4 linked regions of the Homo sapiens genome follow. The protein of the gene in region 3 purifies or fractionates together with the protein of the main gene of each other region. This does not show direct contact. Each region holds a gene or a part of one and is shown on either strand. Other genes may lie near its edges.

Region 1 (4,055 bases), on a different chromosome or scaffold from region 3:
AAGAGTGAAGCTCGGTTAAAAAAAAAGAAAAGAAAGAAAGAGAAGAAAAGAAAAGAAAGAAAGAAAGAGAAAGAAAGAAGAGAGAGAAAGAGAGAAAAGAAAGAAAAGAAGGAGGAAGGAAAGGAAAGGGAAAGGGAAAGGAAAGGAAAGGAAAGGAAAGGAAAGGGTCTCTGACCTCAGACAGGTTACAGTCTCACTAGGGAGACAAGGGTCAGGATTACGTGGGCGTCATTTTCCTCCTTACAGGCAGGCGGTGCCTCTCCCTTCAAAAGCAAGGGACCTTTATGCATGATTCCACATCTGCATTCCGATAGGAAAGGGAAACAGCAGAAACACAATACCCATCTGAGAGCTACGCTTAGAGAGGACTCTGGGCTTTTATTTATTTTTTTACTTCAGTCTTGTGACCAGTAATTTTAAGGGAAAGCCAATAATAATGTTTTTAAAAAGCCTCACGCCACCCCTGGCGGCATCTCCTCGGTGTACTTTGCTGTTCAGATCCGCCTGCCTTCTGTGCCAGCCTAACAGCGCCCGGCCTCAGCCCCCATTGTCCCTGGAGCTGGCGAGGTGTCCGGTTGCGGAGCCGGCGGCGTCTCTGGAAATGCATCCTGCATCCCCGCATGGATAACAGCTGCAGCTATGTCAGAATTGCACAAAGAGGGGAGAGTGTCATTGTGTGCCTTTTGACACATACATTAAGACCAAAAAGGAAAAAAAGCGTCTATCTGTGCTGCCACCGACCAGACTCATGGAGGCCAGATTTTCTCCAATTAACCAGATCTTGCCCTGGTGCAGACAAGACTTAGTGAGTTCGGAGGAGGGGTGGGGAGAGGGAATTGGCTGGGGTCCCTACCCTGGGTGGAAGGAGGAGGGAGGGGTTCCCCCTCCCCCTTCCCCTACCCTCCCCTCCGGGTTTAGGGAGGGGATTAGAGGTGGGGAGGAGCTGGGGGGGCGTTTGGCCTGTGCCCCAACCTTGTGAGTGAGGTGGGGGTTGGAGGTGTGCGGGGGGCGGGGCGTGTGCCGGGGTCGCCGCGGGATGGGGGGTTGGGGATGTGCGGGGAGAGGCGCGTGTCCCGAGATCGCGGGGGGTGGGGTTGGAGGTGTGCGGGTGGAGGGGCGCGCCCTGGAGTTGGGGGCGGGCGAGGCGTTTGCGGGCGCGGGGGGCGGGTTTGGAGGTGTGCGGGGGAGGGGCGTGCCCTGGAGTTGGGGGCGGGGCGAGGCGGGCTCCTCCCCGGCGGGCGGGCCCGGGCGCGGCGCGGTGGCCTCGCGGTGCCTAGGCTGGGGCTGCCGGACCGTGAGGCTGTGAGTCGCGCGGACGGAGCCGGACAAAAGCGGGCGGCGGCGGCAGGATGAACAGCATCAAGAACGTGCCGGCGCGGGTGCTGAGCCGCAGGCCGGGCCACAGCCTGGAGGCCGAGCGCGAGCAGTTCGACAAGACCCAGGCGAGCGGGCGGCGGGCGGCGGGCGGCGGGCGGCGGCGGGCGGGCGGGCAAGCGGCGTCCCTGACCCCTCACGCGCGAACGGCTGGGGCCCGGGAGGCGCCGGCCAGGGGCGGGGGACGGCGCGGGGGCAGGGCCTGTGTCCGCCCGGGCTCTCCGAGAGCTCCGCTGCCGCCCCCCGCCGGCCTCCGCGGCCCGAGCCGACCGGCGCGCAGGTGAACCGGAAGCCGCGCTCCCCGCTCCCGCCGGGCGCTCGGGCCCAGAGGCGCCGGGGCTGAGGGGGCCGGGGTCAGGGTGTGCGCGGGCCGGGAGCGCCGGAGCTGAGGCGGCGGGGGACGGAGATGGGGCCGGGGTTGGGTGTGCGCGAGCCCAGCGCGCCGGGGGTCGAGGGGGCTGGGGATCCAGGTGCTCCCGGGGCCGGCGCGGCCCGACTGGGGTCCCCGACCTTCCGTGCCGCTCCTTGCCGGCTCCTGCCCCCGTCTCCTACCCCCTGAAACCGATGCCCCCACGGGCAATTTCCTTAAAGGAAATTCCTTAAACTCCCAGCTTCCTTCTCTCGTGAGCGGTTTCCCAGGGCTGCACAGTCTCCTATTATTTGCTGGGTGAAAAGCTTCTCGTATGTCGCCAGACTTGTTTGCCCGAGCGCTGCCCACGTATAAATAGGTGCACACCCCCTCATTAAATACCGGCGCCCGACAGACAGAAACTTCCTGGGGCTCCCTTCCTGCGCCTCCCACGCTTGTAACTCTTCCAGATGATGCCTATCCTGGGAAGGCGTTAGAAATGAAATAAGGGCGCGGGTGTGCGTTTTGTACTTGTGTTTGTGCCGGGGACCCACGATGCAGACGTTGCTGCGTTTCTGGTTTCCTGTTGCTTTTTATTTTACAAACTCTTGAAGTGCTCTCAGGCTTGGGGGATGGGCGGTGGAGGGGGGCATACTTGTTTATTTGCCAAAATAAGTCAACCAAGACTGAAATGGCTGAAAAATTTTACTCTAGAGATAAAGGAAGCCAGAGGACCCCTCCCACTCCTGTCTAAAGCAGGTTGGTGACATTTGCGTTTGTGGCGGCTATTTGCAAGTTCCGTCCCACTTGTCCTTGCAGAGAGCTATGACTTCTGCGGTTGCCTTCACATCTAGTTAGCACACGCACTCTACAACAGCTTTCGTTTTGAAATGAGAGAGAACGCAGGGAGACCTTCTAACCTTTGTGCTTGGGATTGACCCAGAAAGCGATAATAAATCCTGAGGATATCAAGGCTTTAGAAATGCGAAGTGCTGGAACCCAGGTGGCTGCAAATTACCAATTTAGCCTTGTGATCTTCATCACCATCAACTGGTTCAGCCCGGATAGCCCGTCATTTTAAAAAAATTTAAAGTCACCAATACATAATTAATTGTGCCAAGAACTTGTAGATCATAGGGAGAAAACCTGAATTGGCAGACATATCTGGATGTTGTCAGAAACTTTGTTTATTCACTGAGTTTTTTCTCGTGCCTTTGAGGACGTATAAAGAGGTCTGATTGCTACATGGAGGAGATGGGATGTGAAGGACCAACTTCATTGATCTTACTCTTAAATGATAAGAAGTCAAGGGCAACCTTCCTGAGTGTCAAAGAGAGAATCTCTGATACAGGACCACACATTTTAGTGGTTGGTTTGATACACAAGAAGGTGGATTTTTTTTTTTTTTTTTTAAAGACAGAGTCTCTCTCGTTGCCCAGGCTGGAGTGCAATGGCATGATCTCAGCTCGCTGCAACCTCCGCCTCCCGGGTTCAAGTGATTCTCCTGCCTCAGCCTCCCAAGTGGCTGGGACTACAAGCGTGCGCCACCACACCTGGCTAATTTTTGTGTTTGCAGTAGAGAAGGTGTTTCACCATGTTGGACAGGCTGGTCTCGAACTCCTGACCTCAGGCGATCCACCCGCCTCACCTCGGCCTCCCGAGATGTTGGGATTACAGGCACCTCTCCGAAGGTGGATTGTTTTGTTTTGTTTTGCTCTGGTTTTTTCTCAGAGGCTAAGAGGGCCACTAACAATGAATAACTTTGTAATGGGTGAATGTCACAGGTCTTACCTATTCTAGGGCCCCATTTTCTGGAAAGTTGGAGTTTGAGTTCATTGTCTGGGTTTGCTCGTCTTCACAGTGACTTATTGAGGAATGTAAGAATGAGGTTTTGTACGTGGTTAATATTTAATTAGATCGTTCCCAGAAATAATCAGGTGAGCCGCCAGCCAGGTCCCGTGGTGGAAAAGGACCTGGAGAGCTGAGGTTGTTACTTCCATGTCTCCTTCGGGACAGAAAATAGCACATGCAGTCCAGGGACCTGGCTTCCTTTGTAATACGCTGCTTGTCTTGCATTGACCACAGCACTGTGTGCTGTGGCAGGAGCACTAGGCTGGCTTAGAATTTAAATATTCACTAGCCTGCCAGCCTCGCTTTCCTCCCCTGGGCTCCTGGGTCAGGAGGAAGATAATTGCTTTCCTGTGAGCTTTTTTGACAGGACACACCCTGTTTGCAAATATCTGTGGGGTTAGCGCTCAGGAGTGTGAAGAGAGGCGATCATGTGCCTGCTGGGAGCTGGTGCCTGTGATTGTTGCATGGTGTGTGTGTATAA
Region 2 (3,500 bases), on a different chromosome or scaffold from region 3:
CTGGAATCTGGGGGTCATTCTAATGACAGAAACAAAGGACCTCAGCTCCAGAAAGAAGCTGTCTCAGGCCCCATGGCTGGCAAACCATTCCGCCCCCAGTCCTTATCCAAGTATTCCCGTCACTATAGCCCAGAAGACGAGCCAAGTCCAGAAGCCCAGCCCATTGCTGCCTACAAAATTGTTTCACAAACCAACAAGCAGTCGATAGCTGGGTCTGTTTCTATCACATCCCTTTCCTCCAGGACTACGGAGCTGCCAGCTGCTGATCCATTTGCTCTAGCACCCTTCCCTTCAAAATCAGGCAAGAAACCCTAGGAGCAAAACCTGAGCCTCAAGCCTCTTGTCTCTATCCCACCCTCAATACCCGCCATGGCACTCCCAGCTTAGCCTTCTGAAGAAGAAATATTATCAGTTCTTATATTTCAATTCCCTGCGTCAGAGCAGAATTTCTTGAGTCAACAAACTCAGTTGCAGTGATATTTAGTTGAAGCCCCTTTAAGTTATGTTCATTTTTGTTTGTTTGTTTGTTTGTTTATATTGATTTCTGGACTTGGAGGCATTTTCATCTCCTTCACAGAGGTCATCCACTTCCACCAAGAACTCTGCTTTCCCCCCGCCCCACCCACAGAAACTGTTTAAATCCTGAAATACTTCTTCACCCCAATCCCAAAGGGGCCCTATTGTTGCTAGTTTTAATTCCTGTAGCTCCTGTTCTAAGTCATGCCCATCGAAGAATCAAGATTAGTCCCTCCACTAAATCAAGATTTAGTACTCTTGAAAAGGGGAGATGTCTGGAAAGAAGAGCAAGATAAAAACCCTGCACATCAACAGGAAGTATAATCCTGCAGTTACTAATAATTCCTGTAGAAGCAGCAGCTCTAGGAGTCTCCAGATCTGATTCTCAGTCTGTGTGCAAGCCAGGCTGGCTCTCGTGCATGACTGTCTATGGGTGTGGAATGTACGTCAGAGCCTGTGTAGAGATACAGGCAGATGGGCTAACTCCTCATGTCTAGTCATGCTGGCAGGGCTTTCCCCACATCCATGCTTTTGAAATTAGTGTGAGTGTACAGGTTTGTGTGTGCATGTATACGTGTGTGTGCACAGGAAGCATTTCCACTTGAGGGAAATCCTGCCCCATCATGCCTACCTCCACAATGAAATCACTCGTTTTTTGGTGTTTGCTCGCCTAACTGACTTGAACCCCATTTTATTTATTTAGTTTTTTTCTCATGGCAAAGTAGAATACGTTGGAAGGTGTAGGGAAATCCTGCTGGAACTGGTGTTTCAGAGTAAATCTTTTTTCTCTCCGGAATTTCTTGTTTTGCTATTAACAAATTATATTTACCTGATTATGAAAAATTAATTTTCCTTATACATTTTCCCCTTACAACACTAGAAAAGAGCACCTTGTTACAGTTCCGGCCTCTCAGTATGTGGGCTAAATGCCAGCATTAGGGAATTCATTAATCATGAGACTAGGCTACAAACTAGGCTTGCTTGTTTTGGGGTGGTTTTGTTGTTGTTGTTGTTGTTGTTGTTGTTGTTTCCAAATCTCTACTGCCTTTTGAGGAAATGTAAATCTGAGACATGGAAATAAGTGTTTGGGAGAATGGAAAAGAGCTGAATCAGGTAGGCATGAAAACTTTTACATTCTCTATCCTCTTTAGATGTTGAAATAGGCCAGACAGGTTAACTGATGTTTTTTAAAATTGTCTTTTATTTCTGGAAAGATCTGACTTATTCCTAGCTTTTTTCATACCCTTTATTATTAGTGCCTTAAAATAAAGCTGGCCAGGTGCAGTGCCACACACCTGTAATACCAGCATTTTGGAAGGCTGAGGCAGGAGGATCAGTTGAGCCCAGGAAGTTCAAGACCAACTCTGGCAACACAGCGAGACCCTGTCCCTTCAAAAAATAAATAAAAAAATAGGCTGGGCATGGTGGCTCACACCTGTAATCCCAGCACTTTGGGAGGCCAAGGTGGGCAGATCACAAGGTCAGGAGTTTGAGACCAGCCTGGCCAACATGGTGAAACCCCATCTCTACTAAAAATACAAAAAATTAGCTGGACGTGGTGGTGCACACCTGTAGTCCCAGCTACTCAGGAGGCTGAGGCAGGAGAATCGCTTGAACCCGGGAGGCAGAGGTTGCAGTGAGCAGAGATTGCGCCACTGCACTCTGGCCTGGGCGACAGAGCGAGTCTAAAAAATAAAATTAAATAAAATAATGAAAAAAATTAGCTGGGTATGGTGACATATGCCTGTAGCTACTCAGGAGGCTGAGCTGGAAGGATCACTTGAGCCCAGGAGTTTGAGGCTGCAGTGAGTTGTGAGTCCAGCCTGGGTGACAGAGTGAGACACTGTCTCCAAAAATATAATAATAAAAATAAAGCCTGTATCTCAATGGGAAGATTTCTGCTAAGGCAGTTCAACTCACTGGAAAGAACTGCTGCATTAGGTTTCAACTTTAATGCTTTCTGTTACTTCTAGTAAAGGTTAAGTGATTTTTCCATTAGCTGTAGAAGTTTGGAGAGCTATTTACCAAGCCAGATCAATGATTTAAAAATTATTGGAAATTCATCTAAGAATCAAGTCTGAATGCCCAATTCTATTGCGGTTGATTAGGTGTGATATTCTTTAAAGTTCAGGAATATTGGCAGTAAAAAATGAGCAGCTACTTTTCAATACTTTGTCCTTTTTTGGTGGTCTCTGCCTATTTCAAATGTCCTGATCAAAAGATAAATAATTGGCACTGTGCCAAGGTTTGGTTTTCCAACTAAGGTTTCAACTGTGCCAGAAACCTATGTCCTTCACTTTGGTGGATGCTAAATGTTATTCTAAGAATATGCTTTTTCCCAATTCTCCTTTCTGATTTTTATGTATTAGTGGATGCAAAATTGTCTTTCTAGTTGAATGAATAATTTCGGCTAATGCACGTGGAACTTTGCACCCCAGATTCTTCCCATGGTCATTATCAAGTGAAGCCCTCAAAAACATGAGCGAAGAGCCTAGAAATACTCAGGGAGATTTCTCACCCCAACTCAGAAATTTTTTTTTTTTTTTTCAAGACGGCGTCTTGCTCTGTCGCTCAGGCGGGAGTGCAGTGGTGTGATCTCGGCTCACTGCAACCTCCATTTTCCGAGTTCAAGCGATTCTGCCTCAGCCTCCCGAGTAGCTGGGATTATAGGCACACACCACCGCGCCTGGCTAATTTTTGTATTCTTAGTAGAGATGGGGTTTCACCATGTTGGCCAGGTTGGTCTTGAACTCTTGACCTTGTGATCCACCCACCTTGGCTTCCCAAAGTGCTAGGATTACAGGCGTGAGCCACCGCACCTGGCCCAGAAATTCTTTTTTTTTTTTTAAATTATTATTATACTTTAAGTTTTAGGGTACATGTGCACAATGTGCAGGTTAGTTACATATGTATACATGTGCCATGCTCGTGTGCTGCACCCACTAACTCGTCATTTAGCATTAGGTATATCTCCTAATGCTATC
Region 3 (3,441 bases):
GAGGGAGAGGGAAAGGCATGGAATGCCAAAGAGAAAATGAGAAACAAGGCCTCACTGAAAACACCAGATCTGATATATAAATAGGAATATGTGTTTAACTATCTTGTATGTTTGTAAGTGTAAATGTAGAAACAAAATTCTGCTTGTTTTTGGAATTTTCTTATGAAACCTCTGAAGTATTAAAAAGAAGGTACTGTGTGTTAGTTGATGGACCTGCGGCTTTGCTGGGTTTCCGGAAGGAATTCAGTTTTGCGTGGCAGGTACTCGAGGACCTGTGGGCAGCAGGCAAGCCCAGCAGCGCCCGTGCAGGGTCCTGTGGGAGACGCCATTGGAAAGCTGGTGTGGGCAGCCTGTACCTGGGGCCTCAGCCCTGATCAGGGCACTGGGCAGCAGGGGAGGGGGCATCTGGGGCAGAAGGAGCCAGCTGCATACCCACCTAGGCCTAGGAGAAGCCCCCCACTAGCTGCATGCGAGGAGGAGCTGGCCGTGGCTCAAGGAGGGGTCCCTGTGTGTGGTCTGGGCTCCCTTCAGGAGGTGACGGGCGTGCGCATTACCTTGTGTTTAGTAACTAGAAAGGAAGGGGCTAACATCAGCCCCTGGTGATGCTGGACAGCTAAGATTTGTGAGCTGAGAGGAACTGGAGAGATCACTGAGCCCCTTCCATACACAGGAAACTGGGGGTCTGGAGGGTGAAGGCCCTAGAGCCGGGACGCACTCCACCCAGGACACTGTTCCTCCAGAGTGACTTGCTTCCCACATCAGCCAAGTGAACGAGCATTTTAGAGACATTTTCTCATAAGTTTTTTTCCTTCCCACAGAACTGAACCAACAAGGGAGAGCAACAGAAAGACAGATTCCAGGCTGGTGGATGTGTCCCCTGACAGGGGTTCTCCTCCTTCCCGTGTGCCTCAGGCACTTAACTTTTCTCCAGAGGAAAGCGATTCTACTTTCTCCAAAAGTACTGCCACAGAAGTAGCTCGGGAGGAAGCCAAGCCGGGTGGAGATGCAGCCCCTAGTGAGGTGGGCAGAACGGGCGCAGCTGGGTTCTGTTAGCTGAGATTCCTGGAGGCTGCTCGGGAAGCCCGTGGAACCCAGGGCTGTGGCTGGCGGAGTTCCCTGCCATGCTTCATCCTGGGGCCAGTGCCTCCGTGCCAAGCAACCCAAAGGGAGGCAGTCAGGACTTCCAGGCCTCCAGGGGAGAAAGCCCTGCATTTGACTAAGGCAAGGGTCAGGGATCAAAGCTGAGGAAGCGGGAAGCAGGGTGGCAGGAGCTGGTGGCTGCTGGTGAGCGGGTATGGACAGGGAGGTGGGCAACAGTCAGAGAGGCACGGCCCACCCCATACAGAGCCTCCTTCCACCAAGGCCCCGCCTGATTCCTTGGCTTTCCAAACCGCCAGCCCACCTGGAACATGAGCAAAGCTCACATTCTCCCAAGATGGTTGCCAGAAAGATGCTGGACTCTGCTCTTAACCTTGGTTTTGTACCCAGGCTCTTCTTGTAGATATCAAACTGGAACCACTCGCGGTCACTCCAGATGCTGCAAGCCAGCCCCTCATTGACCTTCCTCTCATCGACTTCTGCGATACCCCAGAAGCACACGTGGCTGTAGGATCTGAAAGCAGGCCTCTGATCGACCTCATGACAAACACTCCAGACATGAATAAAAATGTGGCCAAACCTTCACCGGTGGTGGGACAGGTGAGAAGTGGCAGGTGGTTCATGTTGACTCAGCCCTGGGTGTCCTCAGTTCTGGGATTGTTCATCCTCCCAGGGCCATCGTGGGACCCTTGAGAGTGGCTGTTGAGTCTTCTCAGCTACACACCTCAGGGCAGGATGCACCTTTGGCAGCCTGAGCTTCTCAAAGATCAGCTGCCTCTGAGGTGCCCTGCCAGGACCCTGCCAGCTCTTGTTGGACAGGGACCGCCTCTCTCCTGCCCATAGACCCCAGGGCCAGATGTGGGACAGAGGAATGTGCATGGTGGGGGCCTGGGCTTCTCCGTGTGTGTCCTGTCTCCTTCCAGCTTCTTAGACGTGGTGGCCCAGAGTGCTTTTCAGTGCACCCGAGCCAGGATGAGCGAGTGGCTGTGATGACCCACGCAGCCAGTCCTCTGTGCAGGGAGGGGAAGGGAGGCCCTAGCCGGATCCACGCTCACCTCCTCCACTCTGCTCTCTTCCAGCTCATAGACCTGAGCTCCCCTCTGATCCAGCTGAGCCCTGAGGCTGACAAGGAGAACGTGGATTCCCCACTCCTCAAGTTCTAAGCCGAACCAAATCCTTTGCCTTGAAAGAACAGCCCTAAAGTGGTTTTCAACCCTCAGAAACAAGCTTTAGGCTGGTCGCAGTGGCTTACACTTGTAACCCTAGAACTTGGGAGGCTGAGGTGGGCGGATTACTTGAGCCCAGGAGTTCGGGACCAGCCTGGGAAATATAGTGAAACTCCTGTCCCTACAAAAAATACAAAAATTAGCCGGGTGTGGTAGTGCATGCCTGTAGTCCCAGCTACTTGGGAGGCTGAAGTGGGAGGATGGCCTGAGCTCAAGGAGATGCAGGCTGCAGTGGGCTGTGATTGTGCCACTGCACTCCAGCCTGGGCACCAATGTGAGAACCTGTCTTGGAAAAAAAAAAAAAGAAACATGTTTTAGTAGAAGTTTTATTTGAAAAAGAAAAATAAGCATAAATATATTCCCAGTGCTGGAGAGGGTGGGCTGAGGGACTGGGGCCAGCACGGACCACCCAAGGCCTCTGCTTCCCGCCGCCACCCTCCTCGCTGCCATTCTCTGGGCTGGAATGTGAAGCCTCAGTCACTCTAAATGAAGAATTTTCTTTTGAATGTTTTGTATGTAAAATAGCAAGTGGCTATTTTTAAAGTTAAGTTTGTATAAATAGTTAGATATTCTAGATTTACATTAAATTGTAAAATAAATGGACTTATTGAAGCATATCTTGATTTTTAAGCTTATCTTGATTTTCAAACATGCATAGCTATTTTTATCACTCTAATCAGTAAGGCTACTATCTAGACTCGAATGCTTTCATACAAGTGATTTTCAAAAATTAGTCAATAAAAATTGATGTCAGTGCAGGCCCAGGCCCGCCCCCAGATACACTAGTTTCTAGGTCTGGGGCCAGCCTAGTAATTGTTACTAGGCACACAGGTGATGCTGACTCGATGGCCTGAGACACACCCCTTGAGAAGAAGCTGCTCTGGGGAGACGAGGGTATGAGTGGAAAGAGGATGGGCGAGGAGGCCGGGCTTACCTGGACACTAAGGTGATGGACGGCGTCTGCTGGGCAGGCCTCGGGGAGGACCCCTCAGCTTTGCTCTCAGCAGGGGCCCGACAAGCTCAGTGGGCAGTGGCAGGAACTGAGTGCCACTGGAAAGCCCATTCCCTTTATTTAGAAAACGAGCTCCAGGAAGCCGCTACTTTGTGTCCATTTCTC
Region 4 (3,500 bases), on a different chromosome or scaffold from region 3:
TCTTTTACAAGCTTTTAGAGGGCTTCCTCATCTTTTCTTCTTTCACTGCTTCTAGCACATTTTTGCACATAAAAAACATTCTGTAAATATTTGTGGATTTCAGCTATATCAAAGGCAAAGAAGTGGTATTTCATTTGGCCCACAGAGTTAGAGGAAGAGGAAGCGGTCAAGAGATCGTCACAGAGATGGGAAGGCCTAGTCAACACTAAGGAAACGATGTACCTGCAGTGCCAGATGACTGTGGCTCTGAGTGGCAGAGAAGAGTTTTGTGAGATAAAACTGCAAAGTAGAGTTGTGCCCAAACTAGAGAGGGCCTTGAGTTTAAACTAAGGAAATTCAGTTTCAGGGAAATCATTTCATAGTTTTAACTTCAGGGGTGCGTCTTGCTAAAGGACCATTTAATTATTGCGTAATGGTCCATCATTTAGAAAGATGTCTCTCACTTGTGCTGCATCAGATGAATTAGAAACCAGAGTCTGGAGGTGGGGAGATCCATTAGGAAGTCTTTATGTAGGAGTTTAGGCCTAAGAAGTGAAGCCTAGTGTCAAATCTAGGTTAGTAGCAAAGGTAACTGAAAAGGAGGGACGGATGAGATAGGTAAGTGACAGAGCTCTGCTTTCATACCGAGATGTCAGTAATATAAGAATTAGTGGTTTTACCTTTGAAATTAAATTGTTGGTCACCTTCCTGCCCAGTTTTTTGCCAAGCTTTTACTGTCTTATTAATGCCTTAACTGCTTATCTAACCAATCTTTAAGCATGTTGTTATTAGTTGTCTAAACATTTCAGAGAAAAATATGAATTTTTCATAGGTCACTAAGCAGTTCGATTTGCTAAATTCTTACTAGAGAAAGTCATGTTTGACAGTATTTTGTTTTTATTTCATTTTCAAAGTAACCTTTATACATCTGTTTATGTATTCATGTCTATGTGATTGTCTTAGCTGAGACTTTAGCAGCCTTGATTCTACGTCCTCATTTGACAGAGGGGAAACCAGACAGGGGGTAAAGGAGATTGCACAGAGCTTCACAGTTACTTTATGGCAAAGCTGGAAGAAAGAAAATATACACGAGTTTCCAATTCTTTTGAGCCTCTAGGCCATATGACTAATTTAAATGTTTAAGCCTGATTTTTAAAAATCTTGACAGCTTGATTACTTAAATGTATTCATTGCTCCTGAATGTATCAATTTTAGCATATGAGTAATGTCTTTAAAAACTGAATACAGGCATACCTCATTGCAGTTAGCAGATACAGTGTTTTTTATAAATTGAAGGTTTGTGGCAACTCTGCATTGAGCAAGTTTATCCGCGCAATTTTTCCACAGCCTGTGTTCACTTCATGTCTCTGTCACATTTTGGTAATTCTCACAATATTTCAAACTCTTTCATTATTATTATTTGTTATGGTGATCTGTGATCAGTGATCTTTGATGTTACTAGTGTAATTGTTTTGGAGCACCACAAACCCAGCTCGTATAAGACAGCAAACGTAATTGATAAATGTTTTGTGCAGTCTGACTGCTCTACCTACCAGCTGTTCCCCGGTCTTCCTCTCCAAGGGCCTCCATATTCCCTGAGACATAACAGTATTGAAATTAGGCTGATTAACCCTACAGTGGCCTCTAAGTGTTCAAGTGAAAGGAAGAGTCGCCCATCTCTCCCTTTAAATCCGAAGCTAGAAATGATAAAGCTTAGTCATTAAGTGTTGAAAGCTGAGGTAGGTCAAAAGCGAGGCCTCTTACACCAGTTAACTAAGTTGTGAATGCAGAGGAAAAGTTCTTGAAGGAAATTAAAAGTCCTATTCCAGGAAACACAAATGTTAAGAAAGTAAAACAGCTTTATTGCTGATATTGAAAAAGGGTGAGTGGTCTGGATAGAAGATTAAACCACCCTTAACATTCCCTTAAGCCAAAGCCTAATTTGAAGCAAGATCCTTAGTCTCTTCAATTCTGTAAAGGCTGAAGGCTGAGAAATAGGTGAGGAAGCTGCAGAAGAAAAGTTGGAAGCTAACAGGTCAGTTTATGAGGTTTAAGCAAAGAAGCTATCTCCATAACAAAAAAGTACAAGGTGAAGCAGCAAGTGCTGATGTAGAAGCTTTAGCAAGTTATTCAGAAGAGCTAAGATCATTGATGAAGGTGGCTACGCTAAACAATAGATTTTCTTTTTTTTTTTTTTTTATAGACAGAGTCTCACTCTGTCACCCAGGCTGGAGTGCAGTGGCGTGATCTCGCCTCAATGTAACCTTCGCCTCCCGGGTTCAAGTGGTTCTTCTGCCTCAGCCTCCCCAGTAGCTGAGATTACAGGCACGCACCACCACGCCAGGCTAATTTTATATTTTTAGTAGAAATAGGGTTTCACCATGTTGGCCAGGCTGGTCACATACTCCTGACCTCAGGTAATCCACCCACCTCGGCCTCCCAAAGTGCTGGAATTACAGGCATGAGCCACCATACCTGGCCAGATTTTCAATGCAGGTGAAGATGCCATCTAAGACTTTCCTAGCTAGAGAGGAGAAGTCAATGTCTGGCACCAAAGGACAGGCTGACTGTCTTGTTAGGGCCTAATGCAGCAGGTAACTTTAAATTAAACCAATACTCACTGACCACTATGAAAATCTCAGGGCTTTTCAAAAGTATGCTAAATCTACTCTGCCTATAGTCCATAAATTGAACCACAAAGCCTGGGTGACAGCACATCTGTTTACAGCATGGTTTACTGAGTATTTTAAGCCCATTGTTGAGACCTACTTCTCAGAAAAAAGTTTCTTTTGAAAACGTTACTGCTTCTTGACAATGTGCCTGGTCACCCAAGAGCTCTGATGGCAATGCATGAGAAGGTTAATGTTCTCATGTCTGCTAAAGCGGCATCCATTCTCCATGAATCAAGGAGTAATTTCTTCTTTCATCTCTTATTATTTGAGAAATTCATTGTAAGGCTATATCTAAGGCTATAACGCCCATAGATAGTGATTCTTTTGATGGAACTGGACACAGTAAATTGAAAACTTTCTGGAAAAGAATCACCATTATAATTTTTATGTTATTTATTGTTGTTGTTGTTGTTATTATTATTATTTTGGAGAGATGAGGTCTCACTATGTTGCCCAGGCTGGTCTCAAACTCATGGGCTCAAGCAATCCTCCCACTTTGGCCCCCCAAAGTGCTGGGATTATAGGTGTGAGCCACCAGACCCAGCCATTCACTAGATTCTCTAAAGAGTATCTAGAAACCTCCTTTTCAGATCCTTGACTCCCGGATTAAGAGCCTTTCTCACTCAGAAGTCTTCCTTGATTTGTCCCTTTTTCTTTCCAGGCTCAGAGAAAGAAGTCCCACTTCCTTTTCAAAGCAGATCCCTTTTGCTACTTTGTTTTGTTTTGTTTTGTTTTGAGACAGAGTCTCCTTCTGTCATTCTGTCTGCTCAGGCTGGAGTGCAGTGGGGCAATCTCAGCTCACTGCAACCTCCGCCTCCTGGGTTCAAGCAATGCTCATGTCTCAGCCTA

The links. The genes of interacting proteins can lie anywhere in the genome.
Region 1: the proteins of GTSE1 (region 3) and HIP1R purify together in Homo sapiens (affinity purification with mass spectrometry; one large-scale study listed by BioGRID and IntAct). This does not show direct contact.
Region 2: the proteins of GTSE1 (region 3) and AAK1 purify together in Homo sapiens (affinity purification with mass spectrometry; one large-scale study listed by BioGRID and IntAct). This does not show direct contact.
Region 4: the proteins of GTSE1 (region 3) and SYNRG purify together in Homo sapiens (affinity purification with mass spectrometry; one large-scale study listed by BioGRID and IntAct). This does not show direct contact.

The regions. Positions count from the first base shown.
Region 1 is NC_000012.12:122,834,202-122,838,256, forward strand, and holds the start of HIP1R (huntingtin-interacting protein 1-related protein), read left to right. Parts: upstream 1-1,255; 5' UTR 1,256-1,349; coding exon 1,350-1,442; intron 1,443-4,055. UniProt on the Homo sapiens protein: Component of clathrin-coated pits and vesicles, that may link the endocytic machinery to the actin cytoskeleton. Binds 3-phosphoinositides (via ENTH domain).
Region 2 is NC_000002.12:69,462,240-69,465,739, reverse strand, and holds part of AAK1 (AP2-associated protein kinase 1), read left to right. Parts: coding exon of another isoform or gene 1-315; 3' UTR 316-3,500.
Region 3 is NC_000022.11:46,327,870-46,331,310, forward strand, and holds the end of GTSE1 (G2 and S phase-expressed protein 1), read left to right. Parts: intron 1-818; coding exon 819-1,020; intron 1,021-1,488; coding exon 1,489-1,698; intron 1,699-2,177; coding exon 2,178-2,261; 3' UTR 2,262-2,941; downstream 2,942-3,441. UniProt on the Homo sapiens protein: May be involved in p53-induced cell cycle arrest in G2/M phase by interfering with microtubule rearrangements that are required to enter mitosis. Overexpression delays G2/M phase progression.
Region 4 is NC_000017.11:37,602,919-37,606,418, reverse strand, and holds part of SYNRG (synergin gamma), read left to right. Parts: intron 1-3,500. UniProt on the Homo sapiens protein: Plays a role in endocytosis and/or membrane trafficking at the trans-Golgi network (TGN). May act by linking the adapter protein complex AP-1 to other proteins. Component of clathrin-coated vesicles.